Linked DNA regions of Homo sapiens. The protein of the gene in region 6 interacts with the protein of the main gene of each other region in a biochemical or structural test. Each region holds a gene or a part of one and is shown on either strand. Other genes may lie near its edges. The genes, in order: HNF4A, ESR2, POU1F1, RARA, NCOA6, MED1 and GABPA.

Region 1 (4,280 bases), on a different chromosome or scaffold from region 6:
ATTTTTGCTATTATCACAACATCAAGCACAAATCCATAAATATACATAAATAAAACAAAAGTTTCAAAAACATACATATCTTACTCTTACTACATGAAATGCTCTATGATATTTTCTATTTTATTTTATTTCATTCTTTTGTTAAAATGTGAAATTTCATAAAGCGATACATTGATGATTTGTGCCTTTTTCTGTTTTGAATGTTATACTTCAGTAAAAATATTTTTTAAGTCCAGGTGTGGTGGCAATTTTTCTGCCTTGACCTCCCAAAGCACTAGGATTACGCTGTGTCACCCAGGCTGGAGTGTGGTGTTGTAATCTCGGCTCACAGCAACCTTCACCTCTTGGGCTCAAGCAATCCTCTTGCCTCAGCCTCCCGAGTAGGTGGGACTACAGGCGTGTACCACCAGGCCCAGCTAATTTTTGTGTTTTTTGTAGAGGTGGGTTTTTGCCATATTGCCCAGGCTGGTCTTGAACTCCTGGGGTCAAGTGATTCACCCACCTCAGCCTCCCAAAGTGCTGGGATTACAGGCATGAGCCACGGCGTCCGGCCAAATCTTACTTTAGTTATAACTTATTGTTTTAGTCTACTTATAGGTCTAGTAAATTTTAAGAATTTCATTTTCTCCAATATTTTACTTTGAAAAATTTCAAACTTTAAAGTTTGAAAGACTAGTATAGTGAGCACTGATGTATCCCTTCGCCTAAATTCACCAACTGGTTGCATTCTGTCACATTTGCTTTATTGCTATCTCTGTATCTATCTATGCACTTTTTTATTGAAACATTTTATGTAAAAAATTGTAAAGGCCAGGTGCAGTAGCTCACACCTGTAATCCCGGCATTTTGGGAGGCTGATGCAGGAAGATTGAGGACAGGAGTAGGAAACCAGCCTGTGCAACACAGCAAGACCTGTCACTACAAAAAAATAAAAATAAAAAATTAGCTGGGCATGGTGGCATGCACCTGTGGTCCCAGCTACTTGGGAGGCTTAGATGGAAGGATTGCTTGAGCTTGGGAGGTTGAGGCTGCAGTGAACCATGATTGTGGCTCACTGTAGCCCACATGACAGAGCAAGACCCTGTTTCAAAAACAACAACAAAACAAAAACAAACCAAAAAAAAAAGATACTTTTTTAAATTGTATATTTACACTTGTTATACATATTTAACGTGTGTGTGTGGAGGGACGTGTGAGCATGACCCTACTGCACAGACGATCAACTGTGTACCAACTAATTCACGCTCCCCTTTACAAACTTTACAGCTAGTCCCGCCCCGCTAGGGACCACATCTTCCAGACCCCCTTGCATTTGGCAAGGGCCATGTGACTAGTTCTCACCAATGGAATGTGAGTAGAAGTGAAAGTGTCTTTCTGGGCTAGGGTGACCTTAGGGGTCCCTGGATGACTATGCCACAGAGGTCAATAAACTTCTAACTTAAAGTCTGCATTTGCTTGTTACATAAGCTATATTGTCTGAACTAATATAATCCCAATAAATTGAAGGACCGGCTGGGCACGGTGGCTCACACCTGTAACCCCAGCACTTTGGGAGGTCGGGGCAGGTGGATCACGAGGTCAGGAGTTCAAGACCAGCCTGGCCAAGATGGTGAAAGTCCGTCTCTAGTAAAAATACAAAAAGTAGCTGGCCGCGGTGGTGGGCACCTGTAATCCCAGCTACTCAGGAAGCTGAGGCAGAGAATTGCTTGAACCCAGGAGGCGGAGGTTGCAGTGAGCCAAGATCGTGCCGCTGCACTCCAGCCTGGGTGACAGAGCAAGACTCCATCTAGAAAAAAAAAATAAAAAAAAAATTGCATGACCTATTCCTGGGTTAAGATTGCAGTTTGAAACACACTGGTGTGGTCTTCTGATTTTCCAAATATTTTTGAACTGTGGAGACCCTCCATTAAATATTTCATTTAAAAGTCAAAACAGAGTGCCGGGTGCAGTGGCATGAGCAGGTAATCCCAGGGGCTGGGAGGCTGAGGCGGGAGGATTGCTTGAGCCCAGGAGTTTGAGGCTAGCCTGGGCAACATAGCGAGACCCCTGTCTCTAAAATAAAATAAAAAGAAATATACAAAAGTCAAAAAGAAGTGTCTCTGATGGAGCCAGAGGTTGAAGGGTGGGGAGAGGCTAAGCCCTAGTCCATTTGAACACGTCCCTACCCACATTACCCTCAAAGGGAACCCTGCAGCATCTTTCCTGACTCTTAGGACCCAGGGAATACTGTGTGACAATGGCTGAGCCAGATGGTTGTCATACCTCCATTTCTCAAAAGAGGAAATGGAGGCTGGGTGCTGTGGCTTACACCTGTAATCCCAGCACTTTGGGAGGCCGAGGTGGGAGGATCACAAGAGGCCAGGAGTCCAGCCTAGCCAACATGGTGAAACCCATCTCTACCAAGACTACAAAAATTTGTCAGGTGTGGTGGCACACACGTGCAATCCCAGCTACTTGGGAGGCTGAGGCATGAGAATTGCTTGAACCCAGGAGGTGGAGGTTACAGTGAGCAGAGATAGAGCCACTGGGTGACATTGAGACTCTGTCTCAAAAAAAAAAAAAAAAAAAAAAGAGTAGATGGAGAAACAGCAGGAGAAGGACTTGAGTGAGGTCACAAACAGCTACCCAGGGCCAGGGCCAGAGCCATCTCCCAGGTCTCTGATGAGGATAGGTCTGTCCCCTCCCTTTCTATGCCTCTCATCTGCCTCCTCCTCTGTGAAGGAGCCACACAGGCCCCCATCTATGAACCAGCACCCCCAAGAGGAGACCCTGGGCATCCCAGGGCCCCAGAAGGCTTGCAACAAAGCCTTGTCCTTAGTCTCCAGCCAGAGACAGTTGCATCCTGGGACCAGTTATCTATTCCTTACTCATCTCTGTTGTTTCTACAACAGCCAAAATGATGCTAACACCTAGTAAGCATCCAGTCCTTTGCATATAGTAGATGCACACACTATAGGTATAATAATAATAATCGTTCAAATTCACATAGCACTTTCTATGTGCTAGACACTCAGCACTTTACAAATATTGACTTTATGTCTCACAACAACCCTGTGAAGTAAATGGTATTATCATCAACCCCATTTGACAGATGAGGAAACTGAGGCAAAAAAGATTGGGTCGGCCGGGCGCAGTGGCTCAGGCCTGTAATCCCAGCACTTTGGGAGGCCGAGGCGGGCAGATCACTTGAGGTCAGGAGTTCAAAACTAGCCTGGCGAACATGGTGAAACCCCATCTCTACTAAAAATAAAAAAAAATTAGCCAGGCATGGTGGCAGGCGCTTGTAACCCCAGCTACAATCCCAGCTACTCAGGAGGCTGAGGCAGGAGAATTGTTTGAACCCAGGAGGCAGAGGTTGCAGTGAGCCAGGATCATACCATTGCACTCCAGCCTGGGCAGCAGAGCAAGACTCCGTCTCAAAAAAAAAAAAAAAAGAGAATTGAGTCATTCACTCAAGGTCACACAGCTAGTAGGTGGTAGAAGGTGGTAAACTCCTTGGATGCTATTATGACATAATAGCTGAAAGAATGAAGATTTGGTGTCAGACTAGATTTTAATCACCTATTTGCAAGGCGATGCAGGGAAACGTGACTTAACAACTCTGAATCTCAATTTCTTTGTTTATAAAATGGAGATAATATTTCCTACTTGGATGGGTTATTGCAAGGCTTAAAAGGGAGAAAACATATCAAATAGCCAACATCTTGCCCATTACATAAAAGGGGCTTAAATGAAAACAAATTCCTTTCGTTATCATTGACCCATCCTTATGCTACAGGCATATGAGTCAGGAAAAATGGAAGGCACAATTCCTTCACTTAAGCATCTCAGCATGCTTTTTTTTTTTTTTTTTTTTTTTAAGACAAGTTTCCCTCTGTTGCCCAGGTTGGAGTGCAGTGGTACAACCTCGGCTCACTGCAACCTCCACCACCTGCGTTCAAGTGATTCTCCTGCCTCAGCCTCCCGAGTAGCTGGGATTACAGGCGCCTGGCACCACGTCCAGCTAATTTTTGTATGCTTAGTAGAGACAGGGTTTCACCATGTTGACTAGGCTGGTCTGGAACTCCTGACCTCAAGTGATCCACCCGCCTTAGCCTCCCAAAGTGCTGGGATTACAGGCGTGTAATCCACAATAAGCCACCATGCCCAGCCTCAGCATGCTTTTAGGAATAAGATTAATCAATCATGAAACAACCAGACAAGTCTCAAGATACTTTCAGTAAAGGATGGAATTAATTGCAGTCAAATATAAGTAAAATCAGAGCAGTGTGTGGCCAGGC
Region 2 (4,280 bases), on a different chromosome or scaffold from region 6:
ATCATATCTACAAAGAGCCACGCTGTGGGGAATGACTAATGTTTGAAAGTGGGTAGGTGAGTTTATGCCCATCCACGTGATGCTGATGAGCATTTGTCACTGCCGAAGACCAGTCATAGCCATGGGGTGGGAGCTACATCTCTAAGTGTAATGAAAGGAGTGGCCAGATCAAATCTTACCCACAGGTCTGAACCACAGGCAGGATATGCATTGGTCTTCTGTAGTTACTAGAGTTCACGAATGCTGCATGGATGGGTGTGAAGGCATTCAACCACTTCCAAACATCAGTCATTCCCAACAGCATTGCTAAGCAGCCCTTCAGACATTTGAAGTTCCCATTTAAATGGAGAACAAACATCTCACACTCTGCAATTTCAGATAAAGGTCTAGATTTAAAATAACTTTCAGGTTGGGCGCAATGGTTCATGCCTGTAATCCTAGCACATTGGGGAGCCAAGGTGGGCGTATCACCTGAGGCCAGAAGTTCGAGACCAGCTTGGCCAACAAGGTGAAACCCTATCTCTACTAAAAATACAAAAATTAGCCAGACATGGTGGTGCACACCTGTAATCCCAGCTACTTTGGAGGATGAAGCAGGAGATTGCTTGAACCCGGGAGGCAGAGGTTGCAGTGAGCCAAGACTGTGCCACTGCACTCCAGCCTGGGCAACAGAGTGAGACTCCATCTCAAAAAAATAAAATAAAAATAACTTTAAGAGGAATAACAAATGGACTTTAAGTTACCTTGAGATGAATGTGAGACAAGAAAAAGGGGGAAGAGAAGAGAAAGGGAGAGAGAAAAAAGAAGAGAGAAGAGAAGAGAGAGAACAAGCAAGTGCCTGGCCTGGAAAGGCTTGGAAGGAAGCAGAGGCTCAATGCTGGACCACAGGCAAGAGGTTCATAAAGGAACGAAAAGTCTAACAAGGGATCCCCAGGCAGCCTCCAAAACACATCTGGCTAGTTCCTGATGTTGCCAGGCATGGTTCTTTTGGAAAGGGAATGGTAAAGGTATTATTGATTTATAAATGAAGGTAATTATATAATGGATTAATTTGCCCAAAAATTAGCAGAACTTTGATTATAATTCATGCTCAGAAACAAAATATGTCTTCCTTTAAAGGAGGAAGGAGAAAAAAAAAACAAACCATTACTTTAAAAAAGTTATCCACAATGTTTATATTCTCTTTACCAATGAGTAAAATGTTTTTAAAAGAAGAAAAATAATGGTGCAATGTTACTGTCTCAAAGTTTTATGATAATATTTGAAAGTAGTGAATTTCAATATCCAACATGCCCTTAGTACTTTTAGATTTTTATCTCCCCCTCTCCTTTCTCATTATACTATCCATTCCCTTCATACCTATGATTATCATTAGAAATATTAATAATTAGATGGAAATAATCCATTATGTTACCTTGCATTTAAAGAGTACACATATCCTTTTTAACTTCAGGGAATGTCAACTGAAGCCTAAACTTCAATAGTTTCCACCAATCTTTATATAATGTTATTATTTTAGTTCATGGTTAAAAAGCTTATACCAATCATCTATCTTTTCATGCTTCGCATGTCTAGAATTTCATTTAAGTTGTAATACTATCACAGTTACTTTTATCCTGGAAACAATTTGTCATGAACATTAAATTGTGGTTTCACTATAAGAAGACTTTGAAACTGAAAGTAAAGTAAAAATTCATTTTTCAAATCCAAATAACTCCATTAAGAGTGACTTAAGTTCAGACCAGGCACAGTGTTCATCACGTCTGTAATCCCAGCACTTTGGGAGGCCAAGGCAGGTGGATCATTTGAGGTCAGGAGTTCAAGACCAGCCTAGCCAACATGGTGAAACCCTGTCTCTACTAAAAATTTAAAAAATGAGCTGGGCGTGGTGGCACGCGCCTGTAATCCCAGCTACTCGGGAGACTAAGGCACGAGAATTGCTTGAACCCAGGAGGTGAAGGTTGCAGTGAGCCGCAATCGTGCCATTATACTCCAGTCTGAGTGACAGAGCGAGACCCTGTCTCAAAAAAAGAAAAGGAGTGACTTAAGTTCAGTATTTACTGTATAAAGACAATAGTCATGATAGCAAATTCTCCCCACAACACTGATGTACACATACCAGTTTTTAATGAGAACTAAAATATCAGAATAGAACAGGGCATCCTGTGTTTTGGGTGCTGTAAGTAAACTATGTAATTAATACAATAAAGACCTTGTCTAACATATTATTTCCTTCTCACTCAACCATAAAGTGATTTGAGAAATGGCTAGCAACTATAATTCAGAATGAAGACTGGACTTACCTGTTTACAGGTAAGGTGTGTTCTAGCGATCTTGCTTCACACCAGGGACTCTTTTGAGGTTCCGCATACAGATGTGATAACTGGCGATGGACCACTAAAGGAGAAAGGTGCCCAGGTGTTGGCCACAACACATTTGGGCTTGTGGTCTGCCGACCAGGCCCACCTTCCAAGTTAGTGACATTGCTGGGAATGCTGTAATTCATCACAGCAGGGCTATAGAATGTCATGGCTGGATATTCATGGTGGCTGTCTACATAGGAGGAAGGTATGTATATGGAGCCGTGCTCCAGGGGTAAGATGGATTGACTGCAGTTGTAGGAGGAAGGAGAATTAAGGCTAGATGGTGAGTTTTTTATATCCATGTCTTGAGATAACAGCTGAGAAAACACCTTGCAAGAAGAGGCACAAAGGTCATTATAATGTTCTCAAAGATTCGTGGGCAAGTATAATGGCTGTAAAGAAACACAGAAGATATTGCCAAGTTAGAGCTACAGCTGTTAACTATGAAAATTTAAATATTTTCATTAAAAAAATACATACGTTTGTATGAGATTACAAATACATCCTGAAAAATATACATGAAAATATTAACCTCAGAGGAGTGGGAATGTGAGGCATGAAACTCACATTTTCTGCTTCATTCATCTCTTCATTGCTTGTTTGTTTAATCAAGAGTTTAAGCACAAGAGTTTAATCACGAAAATTTATTATAAAATAGTCTTTAAAACCAAAAAACACAGGATTAAATAAAAATGAAAGTTCTTATGGAAAAATAAGCAAGAATAACCAAGTAAACGCTAAGAGAAGATCAATGAGCAAGGCTAGTCTCAACCAATATTAAAATACGCTATGAGGCCAAGCGTAGTGGCTCACGCCTGTAATCCCAATACTTTGGGAGGCTGAGGTGGGCAGATTACTTGAGGTCAGGAGTTCGAGACCAGCCTGGGCAACATGGTGAAACCCCGTCTCTACTAAAAATTAGCCAGGAATGGTGGCATGTGCCTGTTGTCCCAGCTACTCAAGAGGCTGAGGTGTGATTGCTCAAGCCCAGGAGGCAGAGGTTGTAGTGAGCAGAGATTGTGCCACCGCGCTCCAGCCTGGGTGATAGAGTGAGACCCTGTCTCAAAAAAAAAAAAAAAAAAAAAAAAAGAGAGAAATTACCATTTCCGAAAAAAGTTTTTAAAAGAAAGAAAACACATTATGAATCTCCAATAATAAAAAACAATGGGTATTAGCTGAAGAGACTGACCAGTGTAACTGTGTCACTTATCAATCTGTTGCTTCTCAGTTTTGTTTTGTTTTGGTTTTGTCTTTGTTTTTGAGACAAGGTCTCACTCTGTCACCCAGGCTGGAGTGCAGTGGCATGATCTCGGCTCACTGCAACCTCCTGCCTCCCAGGTTCTAGTGATTCTCCTGCCTCAGCCTCACGAGTAGCTGAGACTATGGGTGCGCACCACTGTGACTGGCTAATTTGTTGTATTTTTTAGTAGGGATGGGGTTTCACCACGTTGGCCAGGCTGGTCTCAAACTCCTGATCTCGAGTGATCCACCTGCCTCGGTCTCCCAAAGTGCTGGGATTACAGGCATAAGTCACCATGCCTGGCCTACGTATCAGTTTTGAATGTGCCCTTCAATTTATGCTCTAAAAAACAGAATTTTTGTATGTAAAGTGAGCACAAGGCTGGGGGTGCTGGCTGATTACAGGCAAATCTTTTTTTTTGAGATGGAGTTTCACTCTTGTTGCCTAGGCTGGAGTGCAATGGCGCCATATCAGCTCACTGCAATCTCTGCCTCCCAGGTTCAAGCAATTATCATGTCTCAGCCTCCTGAGTAGCTGGGATTACAGGCATACACCACCACACTAATTTTTGTATTTTTAGTAGAGACAGGGTTTCACCGTGTTGGCCAGGCTGGTCTCGAACTCCTGACCTCAAGTGATCTGCCTGTTTCGGCCTCCCAAAGTGCTGGGATTACAGG
Region 3 (4,767 bases), on a different chromosome or scaffold from region 6:
GACTGACCAATTTAGACCTTGGCCCTTTGGGAGTTGCAGAATGCTTGTTGGTTCTGTTCAATGCAGACATTGCAACTCGCCGACTAGAAGAATAGTCCTTTAAAATTCTTGTGTTGCATGGTATTATAAAGCAGTCTGTATGAATGAATACAGAAATTCACTCTTGAACAGCGTATTTTTGCTTATTTGTCTAACAAATTTGTTTCATCAAAGTGGAAATGGCAGAGCAAGTAGCCTTTTATTAGATACAATCATAAAAATCTCACTGCATTCAGAGTGCTATTAAAAACCTGTAACAATATATGATCTATTTATTTTGATGTTGAAACCATGAGGTTGTTAGTTGTCTGCATATACACAATTGATACAACCATTCTAATGATAAAGCTGGTCAAAAAATGAGTTCATTCATTGAGTGACTTAATATCCATAAAGCCATAAAGCCGTACATAAACATAACCGTTCATAAATGGTTATATGCTTCAGGAAATCAATGTGTATTTTGGAAGTAAACTGGAATTATTAGACTTTTATCAAGTTTTAAACACAAATCATCAAGTTGATAGGGAGCACAAAATATTGACAATAAAACCAATATTTCCTTATATATTTTATTTTCTCAATTTTTTCCTTCATATTCTGAATATATTGGTTAATTTTCATAAATTAATTTTCTTGAATAAATGAGATATTATAAAGTATGGTTAGAATCCTTTGAGAATACCAATATACAAACTAGTGATTAAAGACATGCCTTTCTTCATAAAGTAAAATAAATTATTTTAAAATAGAGAAAAATCTTTAATTTTTAAAAATCTGTATACATTTTTATTTTATAATTAATAGCTCAAAAGAACTAAAGTCATTTTGCAATATAATGATTACATATAATGCATTACTGTGCATTCCAAAATTAAGCAAATTATCATTAAACATATTTAATACTCAAGTGTTCCCATTAAAGTCAGTGTTTCTATAATAGTTCCTTAGACAATTAGATGTATATGATTCAAATTTCATTAAAAAATTATAAATCAATGCTATTATCATTTAAAACATTTGTAGGTCACTTTTATTAATTATAATTCTTTTTTAATTTTAAGGCTTAAATAATTTTTGCTTTTCAGATTTTAGGAAGTTAAATACAGGATAGGCTAATTTACTAAATAAATTGTTACTTATTTTAAAGTAAATAAATGGCATTTTGAGTATAAAATTAGATTTTACTAGATTATTACCTCGATTCTGAATTGTATTTTCATGCTGGCCAAATTATCTTCAAACACAGAAATAGTGTATTATTCTCATTATTCTCAATCTATAGGATGACCTACTATTTAAAATATGTGATTAGCTATGTGGTAATTGCTTAGATTTATTTATAGCATATATTTTTGATAAAAACTATTGTGTCTTCCAAAAATTATGTTGGAGGATACTTCCTGTATTACCCTTTAAATTAAATTACAGAAATCTTTGGCGGATTCCTGAAATTTAATTTAAAAGGTAATATTGAAAAATCTCTACATTAAATGATTTTACCAAAGTCTAAATATCTGACCTCTAGATTCTTTAAAATCCACCAGAAGATTGGTGCCAAACTTACGCATGTATTTAGAAAATGCTTAATAATAACAAAAGATAGAGCTTAAATCCTTCAAATCAGAATAATGTATCAACTCAAACTTTGATTTCTAAATGTATATAATTTCATTCCTAAATATGAGAAAAATTGCATTTAAAACAAGTGGAAAGTGAATATTATATTGCTATTCAATGGAAGAAATTTACCCAATTCAAGTCTTTCTCCATTTGTAAATCAACTCTAAAACACTTTGTTACTGCATAAAGAATGAACACACTGGCAAAACATATGTATTTGGCTGATTGTGTTGAGCCTGTGAATTCTTAGGTTTAATTTTTGTTCTAAAAAGTTATGTGAGATAAATGTTAAAACTTAGAAGTGAAGTAAGTCTCTTCAGAATGCAATTTTGAGAAAATTTACCTTAGTTAATGGGCTTTAAATGTCATGTTATTTCTTGCTATAATTTCTGTATCTTATGCTAAAATATGTTAATTAAAACTCTATTTTATTCTATGAAATCCATTGTTGTTGATATTCAGATTGTTCTGTTGTGTTTAATATAAGGTTTATAGCTGTTTTTAGATAGTAAATGTAATTTAACAACCGAATAAACCTTTAAGATAAAGAAGTAGCACCTTTTAAATATTGTTATTTTATAATATTCATTTCATTTGCTCCTTATTCTATAAATATTTCCATTAAAAAGGTTTTTAGATTTAAAATGTCCAAGTTCATTCTTTTCTTATGTAGAAAACAGATTTTCTTCCTTACAACAAAGCCAACAGTGATTTTAAATTACTACACTTACTAATATTTCTTTAAAATTTATTTGGCATGTTGGCTTTTTAGATATGCTTAATGCTTACTTCACTTAAGACAAATTAAATTGGAGGGGTAAAATGAAAGATGCAAAGAGATTATTAACTATCAAGATTCAAAGCATTCATTCTGAAATATTTAGGCCCGGTCATATGTAAACTGTCATAGGAGTCAGTACCTGTAGACATCACATTGGTGGCATGGTTGGAGACTGGTAGACACTCGGCAGCACTGTGATGCATTATCAGAGGCAGAGTTGCAGAGGCGTCAGAATTCAGAGGTATAAAGGTATCAGCCGAAGTAAAAGCTTGGCAACTCATTCCCACAAGAGAGTAGAAAAATAAGGAGAACCGCTGCTCCCCAAATCAGAGTTTTATTATATTACTGTCTCAAAGGGCCGATTCAATTCTCACTACCTGCATATATACATCAGGAAGGCTCTGAGGCACCAGGAGGGTGCGCGCTAGTATTTATACTGCAAGGAAATCCCTTTATACATGTTAATAGTCTTTTCCCAGGAGTATTGCTTTATCAATCTGAACCGTCTTCCTTTTTTACCCCAAACATAATCCATGGCAGAGAAGGAAGCTGATTCTGGGGTATAGATGGAGGGGAAGGGAGAAATCTGAAACCTTATTTGACAACTTCAGTAGTTCAGACCTTTTAGAGAGGAATCAACAATTTTGAAAACACGTCCCTCAAAAAAATAATGCCACAATCAATTGAAAAATAGTAGGTATCTTTTTGCTACTAACACAATTGCAAATGTATAAATATGAGATTTTTTTAAACAACTTCTCATTAAATCTGCGATAAAACATGAAACAAAAGAAGTGCATAGTATTATACATAATTTTAAGAAACAATATTTAAGATTATGAGAGAAGCATATAATACTAAACATGAGAAAATATGTTGTCAATTAATGATTCATACTCAAAAATGCACAGCTTTTAAAAACGATGACAACCAATATAAGTTTTACTATATTATAAGTGAAAAATGGAAAAAAATTGGATAAAATGTAGTAATGATAGGTTGGTGCAAAAGTGATTGCATTAATGGCAAGAACCGCAACCACTACTGCACCAAAGTTAAATACAACTAAGATATGGGTAATTGTTATCTTTACCTCGATTTCAATTCACTCAAGAACCCAATATTTAGTAAGCTGTTACTAGATGCTGACAGTATTCTAGGTATTTATACAGTTACGTCATGCAAATCTCACAACATCTATGTGAGTTATGTACCTTGCCATTCTCACTAAGCTAGACTCTGTGCCACAAAGCCTGAGATAACCATGGTAGTTGCTAACTAGATGCAAACTTCTCACACAAAATATATTGACTTTATATGAGAATGAAAAAAATAATATGCTACAGCCAACTATTTCAAAGATAAATAACAGCATCAAAACTTTACAATGATCATGATTTATGAGTATGTAATGAGTAAATAAAATACTATTTATGTATTGTATATTAAGGTAATATAGCAAATAGAAGTAAGCGAACAGGAATAGATATTATTGATGTGAGTAGACACTAATTTTGTACTACGGAATGTTTTAAGATAATTTGGAATTGGTTGCTTTGTATCAAATTTCATGTTAATATTGATAAGACATTTTCAAAAACTTGAACACTTTGTCAGTAAGCAGCTGATATTTTGAAGGAAAATATGTAAAAGCTTGCCTAAATCATTAGATATGGAATGAAAATATTTATTCTAAAAATGACATATTTTTTCATTCTGAATTCTATATCTTTGAAGCTTTATTAGTCTTTTCTAATGAGAGAAAGTTTCAAGTAATCAAAAGCATTATTATACCCTTGCAGAATTCTGATCATTTTCAGACTTCACATATACAAAAAGGTGATTTTCAGTATGTCTATTTGGAGTTTCTGTTAAGAAAATTAAATAAAAGTGTGTTTATTGGGTATCATGTATGTTAAAAATTAAGCTAAATGATATTTATAGAAAATGTAATTTGAAAATGTCCCTTAATAATTTTACTATTGTTATATAAAGTCATTGGAATATGTTGGTAAAGTATGTGAAAAATATACTTTATGAAGTATACTGAAGATACTTTATGAAGTACCATAAAACCTGCCTAGCAAACAATATAAAATTTTCCCAGTTATTTACCATGATATCTAAAAAGTTTTAAATTGCAATCGTAGAATTTCTTCCATAATCATTTTTAAAAATTAAACACCTGTTCTGTTAAAATGAGGTAAAGCCAGGAAATAAATGTTTCCATTACAGTCTTCTACGATACAATATATCTATAGGATTATCTGGAATGTACCCCTTTAAGATAGATTCTTAGAAGTAGAATTACTAAGCTTAAGTCT
Region 4 (4,280 bases), 900 kb from region 6:
CAAGGCCCAGCCCTACCCAAGCTTGACTGCAGAAGGCAGGAGAGGTCCCCAGGTGGGGGACCAGGAGTCTTCAATCTGCAGCAGCAGTTGAACTCCAGCTATGCTGGGCTCATAACAGGGCTTCCACCACCCCCTCCCACCAGGGACTCTGATGCAGGAGGAGAGAAGGGTACCCAGGGAGCAGCAGGAAACTAGCAGAGAGAGAAAAGCCACAGGCTCGGGGCGCCTCACTCTAAGAAGGACACTCCTTGGGGCCTACTGTTTCCCTGCACACAGGAGATAGGCTGGGGGAGGAGTCTGAGCCCCATCCCTCTTCAAACTAGAGGAAGTGAAGGAAGAGAGTCTGGACAGGTACCAGGGCCAGTGGCAGTTCTCAGTAGTCAAAAGAGATAAAATATAGCTCTGAGACACCCTAGGAGGGCCCACACTTCTAGTACAACAAGGCTGTCTTCTCACAGCCTGTGGAAACTCCTGAAGAACAGCATTAAGTGATACTCCGAAGAGATGATGAGAAGCAATTGGCCCTCCAAGACCATGGTGCGGGAGTTTGTTGGAACCAGCTCCAGCTGACTCCTCTTCCCCTCCCAAGCCTCCTAGCTCATCCCAAAAGGAGCTCCTCCCACAAGTACCTTAATAGTCCCACTCCATTTGATTCTCACAGTCCTGAAGGGGCAGGCTCCTGTTGCCATTGTAGAGATGAAAAAACTGAGGCTCAAAAAGAAAATTGCCTTCCTCAACGTCATACAGCTTGTCAATGGCAGGGCTGGGATTCAAACCCAGGCCAGGTATGGTGGCTCACACCTTTAATTCTAGCACTTTGGGAGGCCAAGATGGGACGCCAGGAGTTGCTTGACTCCAGGAGTTCAAGACCTGTCTGGGCAACATAGCAAGACCCTGTGTCTTTTTTGTTAAAATAAATAAATATATACGTGTGTGTGTGTGTGTGTGTGTGTATATATATATATATATATATATATATATATATATATATACACATATAAGCATATATATATATATATATATACATATAACCCAATCAATGTTCCCTCCTCAACTCTTTCCTCCCCTACTTACTCCAAATCAAACATGTATGACTCCACTCTGTGCCCTGCTACCTTTTCCTTCACCCCTTAGTGGATCACAAGGGAGAAGCGCCATCCTTGCCTGGCTCTGCAGGTTTATGGGTGGGGCCAGGACATGCCAGAGAGAGATCAGAGAAGACACTGGGGGCTGCACACATAGCCCTCCACCCCCACCACAAGCCTGGTGCCCACCTGCCTAGCAGGCATGGCTGGGTGACTCAGCTGCATCCGGGGGAGATGCCAGGGCAGTGACTCACCTACCGAGAAGAGCTGAGCCTGGCACCTTGCCAGCCCCAGGACAGAAGTGACTTAGTCACCACCAAGACTGTGATGCCCAGCAGGCACAGCCCAAGGATTGCAGACAGGGGCAGACTGTCCCTCCATGGTTACATGCGCCCCCTGGCAAAGAATGGGCCTCAGCATTCTGGGGCCAGCAATGTCTGTGCCAGCCCCTGCCCCCTCACCACTGCCCACCCCCACCACACCAGGCCCCGCTCCAGTGCCAACAAGTTTTGTGAGACCCCTGTGCTGCCCTGCCCCCACTGCAGCCTGCCCATCACTCACCACCCACTCTCCCACCTGCCCCACCTCCTCCTGCCACCCAAGTTGTACCCAGGCTGTGAGTCTCCTTTAACATGTCCTGGCAGCACTCCCTGCCCCCACAGCCCCTCTCACCCTCTCCCCTCATATACACATGCACTCAAACACACTTCTGCCAGCCTTGCTTCTGCCAGCAGCTGCTGAAGTTGTTGAGCAGGAGGGAAATTGGGAGGGTGGGGTGCAGGGATTGAGTTACCAGAGCTGATGGGGTGGGCTGTCACCCAATCCCTTCCCCAGCTCGTCCCCACCCCCACCCCACCCCTCCACCCGCCATATCCCTCACCCACCTGCCTCCCTCCCTACCTCTGGCTGGCAGCCTACTGCCCTTTAAGCCCGTCCACCCAAGCTAGAAAATAAATGTTCAAGAGTATTTGTCATGTTAAGACCAGCCTAGTATATGAGAGAGAATGAGACAGAGACCAACAGAAAGAATAATTCCTGTGCTCAGTGCTCTGGCTACAACCACTAAATATGTGTATGTTGAGCCAGAAGGGGACTGAGCAACTCCGCAAGTCCCAGAAGAGTTGGTGGGGCCCAAGGAGAGTTGACAGGCTAAACAGCCTCAATCCATTTGCACTATTGATTTCTCACACACTGCAGTAGGCTTGATGGGGGGTATGATAAATCAGCCCCCAAGAGACACAGAAACTGCGTAGAGAGAAGGGGAGGGGCTTCTGAACCACAATTGGTGGTGCACCATGACTTGCTTGGTGCGTTGGGGGTGGGCAGCAGAGGAATAGGAGATGTTGAGTGGCATGAGGCAGGGTAGGGGAGAGGGTGTTGGATTAAGGCCTGTCTGGAACACCTCCTTCCAGGTGGGTCTGAACTAATTTGAAGGAAGAAGGTGGGAGACAGATGCACCACGTGTGGCTACACAGGCAGGGCCTTGAACAACCCCAGGGGGTGCCATTCACATCATAGTCTATGGAATGGTTCCCCCTGCAGCTGTGCAGCATGGTGGCCTGTGGGGAGAGCCTGAGGCAGAAGACAGAAAGCAGACTGAATTCTGAGGGACCACAATTCTCCATTGAGTTTTCTCCCCATACACACCCCAACTTGCCCCAACTTTCCCTGCCTCCAGGCCTCAGAGGGGGCCTCCTTCTGACTAGCGATCAGAAGCCAGTAGTAATCTCCCCACTCCTCAGCCCTGCTCCCTTCTTTTGTTGGGGAGATGGGCAAACAACCACCATGACCCACAGGTCCTGGGCAGGGCAGGAGGAGGGCTCACAAAGGGCTCTGGGGAGTCTGGACGTCCCTTCTGTAAGGTGTCTCCTAGCCCCACAGCTCACCAGCCTGTGAGCCTGCTGGAGCCTGTCCAGCAGCTCCATTCACACCAGTGGCCACAGGCCACCCAAACAAACCCAACTCTGACCTCCTTCTAGCCTGGACACAGACTCTTTCCACATGGAGACTTATAAACAAACCAAGCTGGGATTTTCAGAGACCCTGCACAAAAAAGCAGATGGGAAAATGGACCAGGTGTGCCTGGCTCGTGGTCCTCCTTGCTGCAGTAGGGAAGGGAAGCACACTGAGCTGTGGTGAGGAACCATGACAACAGAAAAATGGTGCAAAGGGAGGGCCTGGGTTCAGGTCTCAACACAGCCAATGACTGATTGAGTGTTCTCTCTAGGCCTCAGTTTCCTTCTCTGCAAGGGGAAGGGATTGCCTAGGTAGCCTCTAAAACCCCTTCCAGCTCTGAGTCCAGCTGGATAAAGAAAACCCTGTAGGGTGCCAGGACTCTTCCACCCAGTCCAGCCCGGCCCATCTACCTGGGTCATGCCCCTCTGGGTAAGGTCCTGCCCCTGCTCCCCATGCCTCCTTGCTGTCTTCTGCCCCTCTGGCCCTTCCTCACTCCTCTGCCTGCCTGCTTACCCTCACCTTGGCCAGCCCCTCTGCCTGCCCCGTGCTTTTCTGCACGTCCCTCCTGCCAGGGGACTGACCAACTAAAAATAGTCCCTGCAGCCTTTCTCGCCCACAGCTGCCCAAAGAGCAGGAAATGAGGGGGGCAGGGAGGCCCATGCCCTGCCTTACCCCCACTAACTCCCAGGTCAGAATCATGTCCAGCACTCCAGCCTGGGGCTAGCGCCAACTTGGCCATCCTGGGGGCATCCCACACCCCTTTCCTAGGGGGAGGCCTGCCCATAAGTGCCTGCAATCACAGAGCTGCCCCTACCCTGCGGGAGGAGGAGAAAGGAGGCAAGCGGTCTAGAGGGAAACCTTCCCAATTTCTGACAAATCAGTGCCAACCACATTGTGGGCACCCAAAGGGCAGGGCCTGGCTCCACTGACTGGTCTTTTGAGGGCAGAAGGAATTGGCTTGGGGAAGTTTGTGACAGTCTCCTTCATCCTGGCCCAACTGGAGGGAAGACAAAATAGTGCCCCAGCCTCAATTATGTTAGTCCCTTGCTCCCCAAAACCAGGGATTTCACTAGCCACCTGCAGATATCATGGGGAAAAAAACTAAAAAATGAGAGCAGGAGATGTAGGCTTCTGTAAAGAGAGAAGCCTGGAGGCAAGAATAGGCCATGCCTGCCAGGCTGGGCATGTGCTGCCCCCAAGCTGAGTCAGAGGCTAGGAGGGAGAAGCTGGGGTGCTACA
Region 5 (4,280 bases), on a different chromosome or scaffold from region 6:
ATACAGTTTCCAAAATATACAAATCTAATATGCATATACTTGTTTATCAGCACGTTAAGAAATCAGATTTAGTGATGGATCCGATAATTATAATTTCAAAGACATGATGCGCATAAAGGCTACTTCAAGATTATATGCAACAATTGTAGTATGATATAAAGATATTTGAGATTTCTGTTGTTACAGAGTCACAGAACTGCTAATACTAGAATGGTATGTTACCTACACTCATATTTGAATAGAATGGTAATTTTCAGTTAAAAGTTAGTAAAAGAGATTTTTTTCTCCCTGTCCAAGTTCACAAGCCCCACTGAAGTCCTATCTATAGACTCCTGTCTATGAACCCCAGGTTAAGAAACCCTACTCCTACTGCCAGGCATGTCTTCCATTCAGCAAACGTTTACTGTGCCTCAAGGCATCTACTGCATATCAAGCATTATACTGGGCTCTGTAGCTTCAGAAGTTTTTAAGGCAGAGTCACTTCACTTTGGGTATGCAGCCCCATGAGTGAAGTAGACATGTGAACAATCATAGTTCAGGATGGTCGATGCCAAAGAAGAGTTATTAAACGCTATAAGGACACGGAGATGGGTGTGTCTGCTCAAAGAATCAGGGAAGGTGTTGCGAAGGGGTGACATTTGAGATGTGTCCTAAAAGATACAGGAATTTGCCAGTGAAATGGAGAGAAGGGCCTTTCAGGTAAAGACACGTTTTCAGGGAATGTATTAATAACTGAATGTGGCTGGAGCATAGAATGTGTGTGAAAGCATGGCCAGAGATGAGACTAGGAAGACCATGTTAGGAACCTGGTTGTGAAGGACCTTGCTAAGGAGTTTGGACTGAATCCTTAGCTGAGAGAGGCATTCAAGATCTTCGAGAAGGGGAGTATGTGGTGGAGGTTTAATTTCTAGGAGATAAATGGATGTTCTTTGGAAGGAGGGTAGACTGAAGACCAGAGAGGTAATGAGGATCTGAACTAAGGCAGAGACTGTGGGCACTGAGCAGAGTTAGAAGTAATGAGGATCTGAACTAAGGCAGAGACTGTGGGCACTGAGCAGAGTTAGAAGTAATGAGGATCTGAACTAAGGCAGAGGCTGTGGGCATTGAGTGGAGTTAGAATTTGCAGGTGTTGATTATTGACATTGTGAGTGGCTTAGGGGGAGTTTTTTAAATTTCTGGTTTGGGGTGGTGTCTGTCAAAGAGGTTTAAAAAAGTGAAAGGAAGTCTGGGCGTGTTGGCTCACGCCTGTAATCCCAGCACTTTGGGAGGCCGAGGCGGGCGGATCACGAGGTCAGGAGATCGAGACCATCCTGGCTAACATGGTGAAACCCCATCTCTACTAAAAATACAAAAAATTAGCCGGGCGTGGTGGCGGGCGCCTGTAGTCGCAGCTACTCGGGAGGCTGAGGCAGGAGAATGGTGTGAACCCGGGAGGCGGAGCTTGCAGTGAGCCGAGATCGCACCACTGCACTCCAGCCCAGGCAACAGAGCGTGACTCCGTCTCAAAAAAAAAAAAAAAAGTGAAAGGAAAATGAGGGGAGAATTCTCATTGATAATAAGGGCGAAAAGGTTTTTTTGGCAGAGTAATAGAGTTTTGGAAACCATTGCAAAGCTGTCAAGTGTGGTGTAGTTTTTGGTTAAGGAAATCAGAGGTGTCAGCAGACATAAAAGACAGGGGAAAACATGGGAAGTGTCCTACCTATAGTGTAGAAAAAGCACAACTATCTATGTCAGAGGTCGACAGACTGTGGTCCATAGGTCAAATCTGGCCCACGATCTGTTTTTGTAAATAACGTTTTATTGGAACATAGCCACACTCATTTATTTATATATTGTCCATATCTTCTTTTGTGGTACCAATAGCAGAGTTGAGTAGTCGTGACAGAGATGTGTTGTGTCAGCTCACAAAGCTGGAAATACTCTTTACAAAAACATTTGCCAACCCCTGATCTATGTGTTTGAGTGTTGGATGTTCAACCTCTAATTTGCCATCCAATGTCTATATGATGATAGAGAATGAATAAACGTCTTGGCTCTGCCCTTTGGGCTGGATTACCCATGCTCTGTGTACCTGCAGCATAACACAGACCCCTGAATATTTATATCAGTCAGTGATGGCAAGGTCTATTGTTCTGGAGTGTACTGTGTGGTAACTGTGGTAGTGCCAGCTTTACACGGATTAGATAATGCTCGGGCTTGTTTTGCCATTTTTTTTATTGGGTTGTCTTTTACAAAAGATTTATTTATATATTCTGATTATTAATCCTTTGTTGTTGGTAGATATTACAGATGTCATTTCCCAGTTTCTTGCTTATTTTAATTTTTTTTTTTTTTTTTTTGAGATGAAGTCTTGCTCTGTCGCCCAGGCTGGAGTGCAGTCGTGCCATCTCAGCTCATTGTAACCTCCGTCTCCCAGGTTCAAGTGATTCTCTTGCCTCAGCCTCCCAAGTAGCTGGGACTACAGGCATGTGCCACCACACCTGGCTGATTTTTGTGTTTTTAGTAGGGATGGGGTTTCATCATGTTGGCCAGGCTGGTCTCAAACTCCTGACCTCAAGTGATCCACCCGTCTTGGCCTCCTAAAGTGCTGGGATTACAGGTGTGAGCCACTGCGCCTGGCCTGTTGCTTATTTTAAAACATCTGTTTTAAGGTGTCATTTGTTAAAAAGTTCTGAATTTTAGTATCAACTTTATCAATCTTTTCCTTTAAGATTTGCAGTTATTCTTTGTTTTGAGGCAGGGTCTCGCTCTGTCACCGAGGCTGGAGTGCAGTGGTGCGATCTCGGCTCACTGCAGCCTCAACCTCCTGGGCTCAAGCAACCCTCCCACCTCCCATGCCAGTTGAGACCACAGGCATGCGCCACCATGCCCTGCTACTTTTTGCATTTTTTGTAGAGGCGGGGTTTCGCCATGTTGCCCAGGCTAGTCTGGAACTCCTGAGCTCAAGCAGTCCACAAAGTGCTGGGATTACAGGTGTGAGCTACTGTGCCCAGCCTGCAATTATTCTTTATATTCTGGAATACCTACTGTTGTTTTCAATGGTTAGATCTTTAATGTATCTGGAATGGATTCTTATGTGTAGTGTAAGGTCGGGTCCAGTTTCATTTTTTTTCCCTATGTATAACCAGTGATCCCAGCATCATTTATTGAATGGGGCTTGCTTTCAAATTGTGAGCTCTTTTTGGTGGAGTCTGTCTCAGGTCCTTATTAAGCACTGCTGCTTGCTGATTGTGTGACCTTGGACAAATAAAACCTCATTGCGCCTCAGTCTTTAAGGATAATAGTAATCTCATAGGGTTTTGTGAGGATTAAATGAGTCAATATACATAACGTGTAAAACAGTGCTTGGCACCTAGAACATGCTCAATAAATATTAGCTGTACTTTAGCACTACTGTTCATTTCTGATTCCTCAGCACCTGGTACAGAGCAGGGGCTCATTTTGCTCAATTAAATTGCCAAATTAATTTGGTTTTCAGGTCAATCAGAATGGTGAGAGTTGGGCTGAGTGTTGCAGGAGATGCTTCCAAGGAGCTACTTAGTTTTAGGGGCTGCCTTAGATTATCTGCTAGGATAGAACTCTTCTCACGCCATCACTTTTGCAGAGAACTTCTGTAGCAGAGGTTGCAAACTGGCAACCTGTGGTTGGATTTGACCTGTATAAGTATTTTGTTTGGTTTACACAATATTTTTAATGTCTTAAAAATGTACACAGACCTCTGAGTTTCTGACTTAACCTTGAAAAATTGGAAGATCTGTCAACAGCAAGCCCATATTCATTTATAGCGGTAACCAGCTGAAACTTTTAGGTGAGATGTGTTTCCTAGTTCTCCATAGTCTGCCTTGCTGTCTTGCTTTGCTCTTTATTTTTATGGCCCTGCAGACATTTAATTTTCTGATTCTTACTTTATTGAGGTATTGAATATTGTCTCCCCCAAACCAGTAAATGACATATTGGGATGGTGGGGGGGATGGCCAGAAATTGACAGATGAGTTTGTGGGCAAGTAAATACTAAAACCTATTTCTAAGGATGAGCCATACTTGATCATAATGAATAGAATGATAAATGAAATTAAAAGATGAGGTGAAATTCAGCTTAGCTCCTTGAATATTTAGGCATCTACTATGTATTAAGTACTGTATTAGAAATTACCACATTGGTGATAGAAAATTAGCTGGCCAGCTTTATGAAATACTGTAGAAGAACTCTTTTTACTTGTATTGTGGAGCTGTTGTCTAAGAGAGTGGTTGGACGAGAAAGGAAATATAGGTATTATTTT
Region 6 (4,280 bases):
CACTGTGTCTGCCTGAGCAGATTTCACAACTTAAATGTTAGGCTGGGCGTGGCAGTGCATGCCTGTAATCCAGCACTTTGGGAGGCCAAGGCGGGCAGATTACTTGAGGTCAGGAGTTCGAGACCAGCCTGGCCAACATGTTGAGATGTCATCTCTATAAAAATACGAAAATTAACCGAGCATGGTGGTATCCGTCTGTCATTCTAGCTACTTGAGAGGCTGAGGCAGGAGAATCACTTGAACCTGGGAATCGGAGGTTGCGGTGAGCCAAGATTGCGCCACTGTTCTTTAGCCTGGGTGATAGAGTGAGATTCTGTCTCAAAACAAACAAACTAACTAAATAAATAAAAATATAAAAATTAGCCAGGTGTGGTGGCAGGTGCCTATAATCCCAGCTACTCAGGAGGCTGAGGCGGGAGAATTGCTTGAACCTGGGAGGCGGAGGCTGCAGTGAGCCGAGATTGTGCCACTCCACTCCAGCCTGGTAGACAGAGCAAGATGCCATCTCAAAACAAACAAAAAGCCAACTTAATTGTTACGTGATAGTTAAGCCAGTATGCATCCCAGAACCATTAATATGTAATTTTTTGAGATTTTTCTACAGCTGGGTCTGGCAGCCTATTTTTGTAAATAAATTTTATTGGAACACTGCTGTTCATTTACATGTCTGTGGCAGATTTCTAGTTAATATTGCAGAGTAGGTGAACAGGAAACAAGACCTACAAAGCCTAACGGATTACTATATGGCCTTATAAGAAAAATTTGCGGCCGGGTGCGGGGGTCACCCCTGTAATCCTAGCACTTTGGGAGGCTGAGGCGGGTAAATCACGAGGTCAGGAGTTCAAGACCAGCCTGGCCAAGATGGTGAAACCCCATCTCTACTAAAAATACAAAAATTAGCTGGGCGTGGTGGCGGGCTTCTGTAATCCCAGCTACTTGGGAGGCTGAGGCAGAGAATTGCTTGAACCTGGGAGGCGGAAGTTGCGGTAAGCCAAGATCATGCCACTGCACTCCAGCCTGGATAACAGAGCGAGACTCTGTCTCAAAGAAAAAAAAAAAAAAAAAAAGAAAAATTTGCTGGCTGGGTGTGGTGGCTCACGCCTATAATCCCAGCACTTTGGGAGGTGGGTGGATCGCCTGAGGTCAGGAGTTCGAGACCAGCCTGACTGACATGGAGAAACCCTGTCTCTACTAAAAATACAGAATTAGCTGGGCGTGATGGCGCATGGCTGTAATCCCAGCTACTCGAGAGGCTGAGGCAGGAGAATCACTTGAACCTGGGAGGTGGAGGTTGCAGTGAGCCAAGATCGCGCCATTGCACTCCAGCCTGGGCAACAAGAGCAAAACTCCGTCTCAAAAAAAAAAAAAAAAAGAAAAAAAAATTTGCTGACATATGTTCTAGAGCAAAACGTTTGCAAACTGAGGTTTATGAATATAAATTTATCTGGAAAATAAAAAGTGCTTTGCTTTAAAATAAACAAGATTTATAACAGAAATAGCACTTTTTATAATAGTGTAGGTTTGGGATGATCTAAGTCATTAAGGTTTAGTACTTAATGGGTCAAGAGATTTTTCTTTTCTTTTTTTTTTTTTTGAGATGGAGTCTTGTACTGTCACCTGGGCTGGAGTGCCATGGCACAATCTCAGCTCACTGCAACCTCTGCTTCCCGGGTTCAAGCAATTCTGCCTCAGCCTCCCAAGTAGTTGGGATTACAGGCACCTGCCACCATGCCCAGCTAATTTTTTGTATTTTTTCTTTTTTTTAGTAGAGATGGGGTTTCACTATGTTGGCCAGGCTGGTCTCAAAACTCCTGACCCTGTGATCCACCCGCCTCGGCCTCCCAAAGTGCTGGGATTACAGGCGTGAGCCACTCTGACCGGCGGAGATTTTTCTAATGGTTCCTTAATTAAAATAAATTATGTATCCCTGTAATTACCATATGAAGCCCCCCAGAGGACGACATTTTCTTTTTTCCTTTGAAATGAAGTCTTGCACTGTCACCAAGGCTGGCGTGCAATGGGACGATCTTGGCTCGCTGCGATCTCTGCCTCCTGGGTTCAAGTGATTCTCCTGTCTACCCTTCCTGAGTAGCTGGGATTACAGCTGTGCACCGCCACGGCTGGCTAATTTTTTGTATTTTTAGTAGAGACAGGGTTTCACCCCGCTGGCCAGGCTGGTCTCAAACTCCTGACCCGAAGTGATCCACCCTCCTCGGCCTTCCAAAGTGCTGGGATTGCAGGAGTGAGCCACCGCGCCCGACCTAAGGAGGCATTTTTTTTTTTGAGACGGAGTCTCACTCTGTTGCCAAGCTGGAGTGCAGTGGTGTGATCTCAGTGCAATGCAACCTCCGCCTCCCTTGTTCAAGCAATTCTCCTGCCTCAACCTCCCGAGTAGCTGGGATTACAGGCACGCGCCACCACGCCCAGCTAATTTTTGTATTTTTAGTAGAGACGGGGTTTCACCATGTTGGCCAGGATGGTGTCGATCTCCTGACCTCATGTTCCAGCCGCCTTGGCCTCCCAAAGTGCTGGGATTACAGGCGTGAGCCACTGTGCCCGGCCCCTAAGGAGGCATTTTCTTACTGAGTTCCATTATTACCAATTTTCTTTTAGTTAAGTTTGAAATTCAATTATTTGGACTCTTGTTTATAGTTTGCTTTTGTTGTGTGATTCATAAGAGGTTGACAATTTTATGTTGGGTTAGATTTTTAGAATGTATTTACCCAAAGCTCTGGTATTTGATAGAACTATTTTTGTCTTACAGATTATTTGCCCTACCTGAAAACTGCTTACTGCAAAACTCTGATGTTATATCTAAATCTCAGGTCTCATTCAGCAGCTATTGCAATGTTAACTTTGTTTTCTTCTTTATTTTGCAGATGTATGTCCATCCCTGTGACGATGAGGGCTATTCGGAGGAAAGCTGAAACCATTCAAGCCGACACCCCAGCACTGTCCCTCATTGCAGAGACAGTTGAAGACATGGTGAAAAAGAACCTGCCCCCGGCTAGCAGCCCAGGGTATGGCATGACCACAGGCAACAACCCAATGAGTGGTACCACTACACCAACCAACACCTTTCCGGGGGGTCCCATTACCACCTTGTTTAATATGAGCATGAGCATCAAAGATCGGCATGAGTCGGTGGGCCATGGGGAGGACTTCAGCAAGGTGTCTCAGAACCCAATTCTTACCAGTTTGTTGCAAATCACAGGGAACGGGGGGTCTACCATTGGCTCGAGTCCGACCCCTCCTCATCACACGCCGCCACCTGTCTCTTCGATGGCCGGCAACACCAAGAACCACCCGATGCTCATGAACCTTCTTAAAGATAATCCTGCCCAGGATTTCTCAACCCTTTATGGAAGCAGCCCTTTAGAAAGGCAGAACTCCTCTTCCGGCTCACCCCGCATGGAAATATGCTCGGGGAGCAACAAGACCAAGAAAAAGAAGTCATCAAGATTACCACCTGAGAAACCAAAGCACCAGACTGAAGATGACTTTCAGAGGGAGCTATTTTCAATGGATGTTGACTCACAGAACCCTATCTTTGATGTCAACATGACAGCTGACACGCTGGATACGCCACACATCACTCCAGCTCCAAGCCAGTGTAGCACTCCCCCAACAACTTACCCACAACCAGTACCTCACCCCCAACCCAGTATTCAAAGGATGGTCCGACTATCCAGTTCAGACAGCATTGGCCCAGATGTAACTGACATCCTTTCAGACATTGCAGAAGAAGCTTCTAAACTTCCCAGCACTAGTGATGATTGCCCAGCCATTGGCACCCCTCTTCGAGATTCTTCAAGCTCTGGGCATTCTCAGAGTACCCTGTTTGACTCTGATGTCTTTCAAACTAACAATAATGAAAATCCATACACTGATCCAGCTGATCTTATTGCAGATGCTGCTGGAAGCCCCAGTAGTGACTCTCCTACCAATCATTTTTTTCATGATGGAGTAGATTTCAATCCTGATTTATTGAACAGCCAGAGCCAAAGTGGTTTTGGAGAAGAATATTTTGATGAAAGCAGCCAAAGTGGGGATAATGATGATTTCAAAGGATTTGCATCTCAGGCACTAAATACTTTGGGGGTGCCAATGCTTGGAGGTGATAATGGGGAGACCAAGTTTAAGGGCAATAACCAAGCCGACACAGTTGATTTCAGTATTATTTCAGTAGCCGGCAAAGCTTTAGCTCCTGCAGATCTTATGGAGCATCACAGTGGTAGTCAGGGTCCTTTACTGACCACTGGGGACTTAGGGAAAGAAAA
Region 7 (4,280 bases), on a different chromosome or scaffold from region 6:
TTTTAATTGTGGAGTTCTTTTTAAAAGAACCATGTTTATTAAGTTGAGTTTTATTGGATTGGGGTTTTTATATTTTTGGTTTTAAATAAAAACAAAAAATTTTTGTTTTTTTCAGATGTATTGGCAAGTCAAGAACAACAGATGAATGAAATAGTTACAATTGATCAACGTGAGTATTTGTACCTATATTTGCCCTTTTATTAATAAGAAATGTTTATTTGATACCGCAAGGTAATAAAAAGGAAAATTATTTAAAAAAATTTTTTTTCTACACACAAAATATCTTTTGTTCTGTGGAATGAAAGCTCGACACAAGTACTTTATAAGATCCACTCATGTGTTTTTAAATGATACGATTAACATAACAGCTTGCTTTGTATCTCAGTTCACCAAAATTTGTTAGGACATCATTTGTTTCATCTTTACTGACTGTTAATTACCAAGTTGTAAGAACAATTCTAACCACATTCATACCTGACAGAACTTTCATGCCTGATAATAACTGGATATTAGGTAGCATCCAATTGAAATATCAGTATAGGTTGGATACAGCAGAGAAAATATTCAAGTGTCCAAAACAAACTTGAGGAGTTACAATGGGTTTGAAATGAAGAAAAAAGGCCAAGTTAAAATAGGAAAACAAATAGTTTTCATTTGGTGGGAGTTGCAATCAAAGTATACAGTTGTATACATTCTAATGGATCATCTGTCCCATGTGGCATTTTCCAAGGCTTGAAGAGTCTACCAGGGCAAACCCTTCGCCGCCTCCACTACTTTTGCTTGGCTTTTCCCCTTTCTTTTCTCTCGCTTTGCCTTCAGCTTTATTCTTTACCTTTGATTCATCTATATTGGGTACTGTACTTGCTAGAAGTACAGTCTAGAAGAGTCTTTTTGTTTCTCTTAATATCCATCTCCATTTTCATGTCATCTTTTCCATCTTTTACCTCATGTTGCATTTTCTCTTGGCATGTTTGGGTTTGGGTACCACCACAGTTGCTGTCTCTTAAACATCTTTCATTAAAACATTACTGTCTAGTTTGAGAATACTTTTAAGCCTGCTGAGCTCTTTTGGGGCATTTTTCCCCCCTTTTCAGCATGCATCTTTCTTTTCCGCTTATGCCATAAGCTTTTAGCTATGTTTTACCTGAGGTACGAACACACACGTCACAAGATCATCCCAACCGGCTAAAATTTTTAATGAGGAATTTGAGATACACAAAGAAAGTATAACTAACACCTGTGTACATCATTAGAAATAAAATTTTTTACACCAAGTATACCTGTTGTAGGTTTCATTTTCCTCTCTCCTACCAGAGAACTATCTTGAATTTTATGTTTATTACTGTCTGCATATTTTATATTTTTACCAACTATGTAATCGTAAACACTGTATAGCATTGTTTTCCACATGTTTAAACATTGTTTGTAAAATAATACATTGTACATATTATTTTATAACTTTTTTATCATTTGAGAATTACTCATGTTGATACTTGCAGCTGTTTCATTCATTTTCACTGCTGTATCTTTTAAATGCTGTGAAAACATCATTGAATGAATATTTGTAAGAACATGTGTGAGATGTTCGTGTCATAGGGTTTCTATCCTTTCAGCCTTACTCCAGATATTGCCAGATTCTCAAAGTGGTGGTGTGAATTCTCATTTGTCCACATTTAGTACAATATATTTGACAAACCGTTTTTATGAACAAATGTTTTAAGAACAAACATGTTTAAATACTCTTTGTCTAATGTGTATGCATCACTAAGTTATTTCCAAACAAGAATACTAGCTCTTACTAAGATGCACAAACTATAATGCAAGCGTTATACTTTACCATCTGAACTTTTTTGTTATTTTGTTTGAAATTGTGGATTGAGGCTTTCTGTAGTGAAGTACTTTCTTGGGGGTAATTCATAGGGCATTAGTTAAAGTGATAATGTCTTTCAGTAATTTTTTTTTTTTCCTGCTTGTATTGGAAGAAAAAAAATTTCTCCTTGTCTGTCTTTGCAGCTGTGCAAATTATTCCAGCATCAGTGCAATCTGCTACACCTACTACCATTAAAGTTATAAATAGTAGTGCGAAAGCAGCCAAAGTACAAAGAGCGCCGAGGATTTCAGGAGAAGATAGAAGCTCACCTGGGAACAGAACAGGTATTTTTGTATTTTCTTGTATTTATAAAATATATCTATCTAATTAGGTATATTTTGTTGTATTTTACTGTATGAAAAATGTGAATTTGGACTATCCCTCTGGCAGTTTTTAGACAGCATTTCTAGAAAAACAAAAATTGTTTTTGCCATGGCTGAGATTTAAACCACGGGACCAGTTTGTTGTCTTTGCCTTGGGCTAATCTATAACACTATAGCTAATGCTTTGTTCCTCTTACCAATTTAGGAAACAATGGCCAAATCCAACTATGGCAGTTTTTGCTAGAACTTCTTACTGATAAGGACGCTCGAGACTGCATTTCTTGGGTTGGTGATGAAGGTGAATTTAAGCTAAATCAGCCTGAACTGGTTGCACAGAAATGGGGACAGCGTAAAAATAAGCCTACGATGAACTATGAGAAACTCAGTCGTGCATTAAGGTAAGCCTTTATTACTTTTTTTTCTGTTATCAAAAATAGAAACTTTCTAAAAAATAGTTTCTTATTCTAGATGTAATAAGCATTGTTATGTAATGATATTAAAAACTTGTTTATGTTTTTTTCTTTACATATTAAAAAACCTTTTTAAAAAGATCTTAATAATTTCGAGGTACAGTTTTTTTTTTACAAAATTACTCTAAGATTGTTTGTTTTTATCTGATTTGAAAGCTATAATACTCTGTCCCAAAAAAAAATGTTTAATTTTTGAGGTTTTTATTATTTGCATAGATGAATTGAGTGTTAGTTTTTAATGAGTAAGCAGAAACTGTCCTCTGTTTTTACAATTACAAGCAGAATATTGACCCATTTTCTACACAATCTGCCTAAATCTGGATATCCAATCTTTACATTGATACAAACTCTCCGTAAGTAGTATAAGGTTTTTTGACAGAAATTACTATCAGAAATTATGCCTACTACAGTGATGGAAATTCAACAGGTACATTTAAGTATCTGAGAAGAAGGATATATAAGAATATCACGGAATTATGTCTGATTTTTTGGGAGATTGAATATAGTAAAATAGTTCTGCAATTCACGAGTTTTTCTAAATAGCATGCTTTTACTGCTTCTTCATGTTTCACTTGGCCATTTTCACACTGAAAGATTATAATTTAGCTCACACACACACACTCTCCCTTCCCCTTTCCATCCCTTCATCTCAGTATCCCAATATAATTATATGGAAATTTTGGTTCAGCGAGTATTCATTGTTACAGTATTACGGCCATGTAACTATTATTACATAGTTGGCTGTGATTATTTTTCTTTTCCTGAATGACCCTTTTTTTCTCAGAGTTCATGAGTAACTAAAATGTTTAGTTTTCAAAATGCTTATCCTTTACCATTCAGTCTCAAACACATTGCCAACTGTCTAAAGATTCTTCGTTTATAATCATAATTAAAGCTGCCATTTTTGAGAGTTGATACAGATTGTATACATACAAGTCCCCTCAAAATTACAGGTAAATTGTTAGAGTTAATAATTAAGATGTCAGTTCCCCCCCAGATTGATCTAAGTTTCAGTGCAGCAACTTAGTTTAATTTGAAAAATCAAACTAAGTTTTTCATAGAACTTGAGAAGATAATTGTAAAATTTACATGGGACTATAAAGTACCATGGTAGTCAGGACACCTGAAGATTAGCAAAGTGGAAAGACTTGTCCCACAGGATATTGAGACTGACTCTAAAGTTACAGTAATAAGACAGTTATGCTATTTTCTCAAGACAAATAGGCCATACAGTAGAATAGGGAGCCAAAATAGAACCAGGAATATGTAAGCATTTGATTTAAAGAAATGGCAGTGGGGAGAAAACATATGAGGAAACGACCTGCTTTTCAATAATCAGTGCTGGGATAATTTACTCTCCATCTCTGGGGAAAAGTAAAAGTTGACCTCTTGCTTATGCCGTACCAAAAATCAATTCCATGTAGCTTGTAGCTCTACATGTAAAAAGTAAAATAGAAAAGGATCTAGAAATACTTTCATAACTTCTGGTGGTAGGGAGACATTTAAACAGAATCAAAAGGACTAATTCTAAAGGGAAAGATCAATAAACTGGACTATATTTAAATTAGGAATTTCTGTTCGTTGAAAGCCTTATTAAGAGAGCCACACATGTCGGAC

What was found.
Region 1: the proteins of MED1 (region 6) and HNF4A form a complex in vitro, tested with the Homo sapiens proteins (2 studies listed by BioGRID).
Region 2: the proteins of MED1 (region 6) and ESR2 form a complex in vitro, tested with the Homo sapiens proteins (2 studies listed by BioGRID).
Region 3: the proteins of MED1 (region 6) and POU1F1 form a complex in vitro, tested with the Homo sapiens proteins (one study listed by BioGRID).
Region 4: the proteins of MED1 (region 6) and RARA are reported together in a solved structure, tested with the Homo sapiens proteins (2 studies listed by BioGRID, with this or other methods).
Region 5: the proteins of MED1 (region 6) and NCOA6 form a complex in vitro, tested with the Homo sapiens proteins (one study listed by BioGRID).
Region 7: the proteins of MED1 (region 6) and GABPA form a complex in vitro, tested with the Homo sapiens proteins (one study listed by BioGRID).

What each region holds. Positions count from the first base shown.
Region 1 is NC_000020.11:44,361,998-44,366,277, reverse strand, and holds part of HNF4A (hepatocyte nuclear factor 4-alpha), read right to left. Parts: intron 1-4,280. UniProt on the Homo sapiens protein: Transcriptional regulator which controls the expression of hepatic genes during the transition of endodermal cells to hepatic progenitor cells, facilitating the recruitment of RNA pol II to the promoters of target genes. Activates the transcription of CYP2C38.
Region 2 is NC_000014.9:64,280,321-64,284,600, forward strand, and holds part of ESR2 (estrogen receptor beta), read right to left. Parts: intron 2,756-4,280; 5' UTR 2,666-2,755; coding exon 2,304-2,665; intron 1-2,303.
Region 3 is NC_000003.12:87,273,739-87,278,505, forward strand, and holds the start of POU1F1 (pituitary-specific positive transcription factor 1), read right to left. Parts: upstream 2,847-4,767; 5' UTR 2,725-2,846; coding exon 2,583-2,724; intron 1-2,582. UniProt on the Homo sapiens protein: Transcription factor involved in the specification of the lactotrope, somatotrope, and thyrotrope phenotypes in the developing anterior pituitary. Specifically binds to the consensus sequence 5'-TAAAT-3'. Activates growth hormone and prolactin genes.
Region 4 is NC_000017.11:40,311,845-40,316,124, reverse strand, and holds part of RARA (retinoic acid receptor alpha), read right to left. Parts: intron 933-4,280; exon of another isoform or gene 1-932. UniProt on the Homo sapiens protein: Receptor for retinoic acid. Retinoic acid receptors bind as heterodimers to their target response elements in response to their ligands, all-trans or 9-cis retinoic acid, and regulate gene expression in various biological processes.
Region 5 is NC_000020.11:34,818,830-34,823,109, reverse strand, and holds part of NCOA6 (nuclear receptor coactivator 6), read left to right. Parts: intron 1-1,470; exon of another isoform or gene 1,471-3,808; intron 3,809-4,280. UniProt on the Homo sapiens protein: Nuclear receptor coactivator that directly binds nuclear receptors and stimulates the transcriptional activities in a hormone-dependent fashion. Coactivates expression in an agonist- and AF2-dependent manner.
Region 6 is NC_000017.11:39,409,321-39,413,600, reverse strand, and holds part of MED1 (mediator of RNA polymerase II transcription subunit 1), read left to right. Parts: intron 1-2,879; coding exon 2,880-4,280. UniProt on the Homo sapiens protein: Component of the Mediator complex, a coactivator involved in the regulated transcription of nearly all RNA polymerase II-dependent genes.
Region 7 is NC_000021.9:25,762,197-25,766,476, forward strand, and holds part of GABPA (GA-binding protein alpha chain), read left to right. Parts: intron 1-115; coding exon 116-169; intron 170-442; exon of another isoform or gene 443-1,185; intron 1,186-2,013; coding exon 2,014-2,154; intron 2,155-2,398; coding exon 2,399-2,591; intron 2,592-4,280.